2 separate regions of the Homo sapiens genome follow, and region 2 is linked to region 1. Evidence: fine-mapped expression QTL. A gene starts in region 1. The other region holds a variant in brackets. All regions are shown on one strand. Distances are between the middles of the regions.

Region 1 (2,907 bases):
GCCTCTCTGACTCTTAAGTGATCTGTAGAATGTCAGGGAGGACGGTCCAACATTCCATCATACTTCTGAGTGGCCTTAGGGACTAGGAATTCCAGGAGACTCTGGGTTAAATCTCTTGGTCCCTATTCTTTTAAGGTTACTAAGGATACCCGGAGTTTGCTCTTCGCCTCCGTTTTTACATCTGTAAAACGGGATGGTAACGCTCTCCACCCCCCTCTCTTATAAAACGATAATGAACAGCTAACGAGTTAACACACACTAAATGTCCGGAGGTCCTGCTGGATAGAAAGTACAAGGTGGTTTTAAAAAAAAAAAATCTCTGCATGGTAAAACTGCATTTGTAAGTCGCTCCTCCTTCCCTAGCCTCTGGGATGCCCAGTTACCATAACACTGGCTGGTACCACTGGCAACATCCACCTAAATAAAATACAGTTATACAATCCACTTAAGGCGGCCACAGCACGCACCCCCTCTTTACAAACAACAACTCAACTTCGCTCCGGAGCAAGGGTACTTAGGAGAAATAAAAAGACAGATGTTAGCACCGCGCACACCCATCTACCACCGCAGAGAAAGACTCAAGTTGGACACTTGGCATCGCTGAAAGTCAAGTTGCTTCTATCCATGCACCAGAAACCTCGGGGAGATGCAAAAAGCGGCGGCGCGCTCCAGAGCGGGTGGATGCCAGCGAGAGTAGGCGGCCTCAGCGGGGTCGGAAGGCGACGGAGGAGGCGCGGCCGAGGCTGCTGGAGCCCCGGGGCACAGGGACAGGGTCGCGGGGGCGGCGCGGCGCGGCGGGGGAGCGGCAGGGGGCGCACGCTCAGGGCCGGCGAGGGTGCGCTGCGGAAGGTCTCGGGCCTCTCCTCCGCGGGCCGCCCCGAAGAGTCAAGGACCGCCAGGGAGCAGGTGGGGGCGCCGGCACAAAGTTTCCAGAGGCGGGGTCGCGCGGGCCTCTGGGTCCCCCTGCGCCCAGGGACCCGAAGCGCGAAGTCCCGCCCTCCCGCCCCACCCCAACACCTTCCCCACAACCCCCACCCCCGGGCCTGCGGGTCCCCTACCGGCGCGGCGCGGCGCGGAGCGGGTTGCGGTTAGGGCTCCGTCCTCCTGCGCGGCCACCGGCTTCTGCGGGCTGGGCGCCGCGCGCGCCGCCTCCTCCTCCCTCCGCCCGCGCCCGGGGCGGGCCGCGCGCACGCTCCCTGCGCCTGGCCGCCCTCTCCCGAGGTGGGGGGACGCGACGCGGGGCGGGGGGACGCGCGGGGCGGCAGGCGGCGCGCGTGCGCGCTGGGCTTCTGCGCCGTGCGGTGTGGTCCGGGCGCGCCCTAGCTCCCGAGGCAGCAGCCTCCCCTAGAGCGCTCCTCCGTGCAGGTCCCCTGGTCTCTTACCCTGCCTCACACACCGGCGACCCCTCGCTTCCCCAGTCAGCGTCTGCGTATGAGCCGGGCTCGAGGCGGGCTGCGGGGGCGCTCTGCTGGGGTGCTTTCGGGATTGGAGAGGATTAAAGGCGAGAAAGCAAATCCGATACAGGTGTGAAGCCGCCGCGGGTGGCTCGGGACGGCCTCGACCCCACCCCACCGCCTCCCTAGCCCGGAGAGCCCGGGGGTTGGGACCCAAGAGCGAAGGGAAAATCAGTAGCGCGGCAGTTCCTGGCTGACGCTTGCTGGAACAGGTACGGGCAGCCGTGGCGCCCGAGACCCGGAGGTGAACATGCAACCTCCGTGCGCATCTCCACCTGCTCTCGCCACGCCAAGGTGCCGTCCGAGTCTCGGAGCCCACACCCACCTCCCGAGTCCCCGAGGCAGGGCAGGGGTTCTCCGGAGCGCAGGCGGGACACGGGCATTTGAGGGCTCATTTGCTGTGTGACTCTGAGGGTCTTTTAAAATTCAGGTCTGCCCATCTGTAACATAAGTCGGTGCGAAACGGACGTTTTCCAGCACAGCCCCGCCTCCCCTCCGCCTCTGGCAGGTGAAGGGAGACACGTGGGAGGCAAAGCGACTTCCTCAAGGCTCTGCCGTGAGTCAAGGCACCTAAGAGTCCTGACTCCATGCCCAGTCCTTGACTCACCAGCCCCTGCTCCTCGCCGTTGCAAATGGTTGGCCTCAGAATTGCTGAGCAGTCAAAACGAGTAGGCATGGGTTTGCGGGGAGGGGTGGAGGGGAGAAGTAAAACCCGCGTTTGGGGTTTACATCTCCCGATGTCCTCAACCAAAAGCTTTGAAGCTTTTTCATGTTCTTCCCGATCTCCACTGCCCAACCGGCTTCAGAGTCATCCGGTGCGTGCTGGACTATCTAAAAGTTAGTGATAATTTTAATCATAATCCTGGGAAACGAAAAAGGCCCAGACTAGAGAGATTTATTTTCGTCTTCGTAAAAAGAGAATCAAAGCTTTAAAATTAGGCAAAATTAATCTAAGAGAAAACAAAGCAGCATACTTTGCTAGATTCAGGAAACCACTGAGTTCAAATCGTGCCTGGGAAAAGCATCTTCCTAAAACTAAATTGTGACGTCAGTTCACTTAGTGACTTACTTGTTTACATGCCAATACGAAAAGAGCAAATCTCTAACAGAAAGGATTGTGTGTTTTCATTTCTGCTCAGCACCCCCTAGTCCTTGAAGCTTCAGTCAATTCAATGACTCAGCAACACAAATAGATGCATCCCTCTTCACATTCCAGCTTGTTACACTGTAGGCAGGTTTCCAAAACAAGCTCTAGTGACAAGGAGCTAGGCATTTTCATGGATTATGGGAACTAAACCTACCATGAAGAGTCAGTGAAGAGGGAGGTGGGCTAAAATAGAGTTTGTGTTGTGTGCGATGTGCGTGTCAAGATTTAGAGATTTAGAGATTAAGTAGAAAGAAGTGCTGGAGTCAGACCATTTAATGACTGTACAGACATGCCCTGGGGTAGGGA
Region 2 (2,907 bases), 24 kb before region 1:
CCCTTGTTTGTATTTTAATAAACAACTGCTCTAATTGATGTGTTTAGACATTATAAAGCTTTACCTTTAAAATATTTTCAGGGTCTGTTCTGAAATCACCCCTTGTTAAACTTCTCTAACCAAAATACAAGTGTAGAAGAATGTCAGGCTACTAAGCCTTTTCTTGGTCTTGTCTTTGTTGGGTTGATTTCACATAGATGCAAGTCACTAGGATGAACAGGGGCCCATGCGCTTAAGATTACAAAGGTGTTCAGCTTCCCACGTGCGAGGAACTCTTAGTTACAGCCCCGTAGTGCTGCTTGCCAGGAATTCTACAGGTAATTTTCATTAATTACCAAGAACATCTGTCACCAGGTGTCTTCTCGCCCTAGGACAATGGTTATTTGGGTGCTCTTATTCAGAAACTCCCAGACTCAAAGCTGAGCCTCCTACTAAAGCAGCCAGAGCCTCCCTGGATTTTTTTTTTTTTTTTTTTTTTTTGATCTTATAGCATTTGTTGTTTCCTCTGATTTCCCATAGAAACTATTAATAATTTTTTTCATTTTAGTTTTTCTAGAGAATAATGATGCATGTTTATAACAGTGGGCAGCCACGGGTATAAAGCAATAAAAGGTAGAATTTAGATGGGAAAAAACCATTGCCACAAACCAGGTAAAATGTGGAGTATATTTGTCTAAATATGTAGCTACTGGCCTATGTATGGCTTCCTGCCAAAACTGACCCAAAAAATCTAGAAAACTATTCCTCTGGTGAGCAAGCTACAACCTTCCTGATAAATGAAGCCAAAGAGCAGTGCCGCAGCGGGTTCCCATTGCACGGGCAGACGCCCAGGATGCCCTCCATGCAGAAGAAAGGCATGCCCTAGGACAGTGGTTACTTGGGGGCACGTGGAAAGTGCCCAGGAGTGTCCCAGGAGTGGGACAGGGGCGAGCTCATTCACCTTCTACCATGTATCTGATGATGATGAGCGGTGCTGCCCGTTTTATCAGGAGCAGTGAACTGGGTGACAGACAGTCCCAAAGTTAAACAAAGGCAGCCATTGTTTGTTTTTGTTACTTGCTTATCGCTCATACTGAGGTTTGGTTTAGGGCATTTTCGTATGTGGTAATAATAGTCAAGCAGAGGCACCTTTTATTGAAAACCAGTTTCTCTGATGGAGGACACGCTGCTTCGGGGCGCTCCACTAACCAAGAGGAAACCAAAACCAGCACCCCTGATCAGAGCGTGCACTATCAATCATCTCCCACCGGCCCAGCACCGGGGACGGTGTGTCTGCCTGTCCACCAGGATGTGACGCGCCGACAAGACTCTGCTGGGATGTGTATTTTAAGTAATGTTCCCAACTGGCACAGGAGCCACATTTCAGCAGTTAGTTAGTTAGTTACTGGAGAGCACCTTTTTCCCATCATCGACACACACACACCTTGAAATTATTAGTAAAAATTCTAATATGTTAAGCATATAGATTTATTAAAAATAATGCTAATATAATCCTGGGCACATGGATTCCAAGAGAGATTTTGCAGCAGATTTCATTATAGTTACTTAACAGCTAAATAATAAGGGTGTATTTAACTTACTTACAGAGTCACTAAATAATGGAGGGGAAAGGAAAGAGTAGGGCTAATCCAGTAGAGACTGAAGCTGGTTATCAACCTTCCCTAAGCATCTGTCTGGTCCGCAGCCTGGGGCAAAGCTTGTCTCTAAAGGGTTAATGAGGCCCCA[A/G]AGTGATTTTTGCACTGAGCTCCTCCTGCACCTACCAAGGTGCCAAAGGCATGAGATTCAGAAGAGAGCAGAACCAGTTTATTAAACTGTTCAAATTGGTAAAAATGATTAAAAGCTAAAGATTTCCATAAACACTATTCCAAAATGTTAATTTTAAAAATGTGACTAGCAATGTATGCATTCCCTTTATGTCCCCTCCCTCCCTATCTCTTAAAATAAATTTGAACACCCAGTGTAAAAAACACTTGAGGGAGAACCAGAAGTCAGCCATTTGAGAAGAGAGTGGAGAGGGAGCAGACGGCGGGGAGCAGATGCCGGCCCCGCTCGGGCTGCTGACGCAGGCTTCAGTGGCACTAAATCCCCCAGTAAGGCATCAGGTGTCGGGACTCCTTCTCATAGACGTCGGGAACTATGCCATAAGGTGTCTGTACCATTTTAACTGTCGACTTCCCAAAGAGCTGGCGCTCGTAGTCTATCAGTTGCCTCCAGAAGCCTACGTTGGGCCTGATGACAGGTCGCCGGGCTTTCACCCAGTTGTACGCCTCCAGCAGGCACACGTTGTGGAATTTCATCAGGTACGCGATACACAGCGTGGCTGAGCGGCTCACCCCTGCAGCACAGTGCACCAAGGTGGCCCCGTGCTTCCTGCTCACACTGTGGATCTTGTCAGCCACGGTGTCAAAGTACAGTCCAATGGGGGCATGCGGCATGTCAGCCAGAGGCACTTTAACATACTCAAATTGGGGCCAGTTGAAATTAGGGATCTCAATGGTAGCATTAACAATGCAGGTGATGCCACGAGCCTGGAGGAGGTGCCGATTGGAGGCCACACTGCCTCTGCCCAGGAATAGAGAGGAGGTGATTTGAGCAATGCCTCCTATGTCTCCCTCGGAAATCATCCGAGGGGCCATGAGAGTCCTTGGTAGCGTGCTGTGACCTCTGGAGCTCATGAAGACGCCAGCAGTCACACTTGCATCGTTGGCGGCAAGACCAGAGTGTTTTATTTTCCTCCACCAAGGAATCCAAAATTAGAGTCTCCTTCCTGCAAAATACAGGTATGTGTCAGTACTTTAAATGCTACTGATTCATCACAGCCTTCTGTCACATTTGTCAAATGGGAAGATTAGAGGGTTTTTTTTTAAATAATACAGTACAATCTTTCAAGGATACAGACAAATCATT

The links. PIP is the estimated chance that this variant, and not a neighbour inherited with it, causes the effect.
Region 2: its variant is the best candidate, but not a certain one, in a credible set for the expression of DUSP14 in tibial nerve (GTEx, PIP 0.58).

What each region holds. Positions count from the first base shown.
Region 1 is chr17:37,488,110-37,491,016 of GRCh38, reverse strand. DUSP14 (dual specificity phosphatase 14) reads right to left here and starts at 1,126. Exons shown (of 3, transcript NM_007026.4): 1 at 1,059-1,126. RefSeq lists an enhancer at 1-26.
Region 2 is chr17:37,512,041-37,514,947 of GRCh38, reverse strand. It overlaps DUSP14 (dual specificity phosphatase 14), which reads right to left. Exons shown (of 3, transcript NM_007026.4): 3 at 1,450-2,767. The coding sequence starts at 2,675. The coding sequence ends at 2,079. SYNRG (synergin gamma) reads left to right here. Exons shown (of 22, transcript NM_007247.6): 22 at 1-141. Among named protein-coding and RNA genes, the nearest start is that of DUSP14, 24 kb to the right of the region's middle. RefSeq lists an enhancer at 1,778-2,291 and a silencer at 2,050-2,440. The variant A/G (reference allele first, on the strand shown) is at 1,726.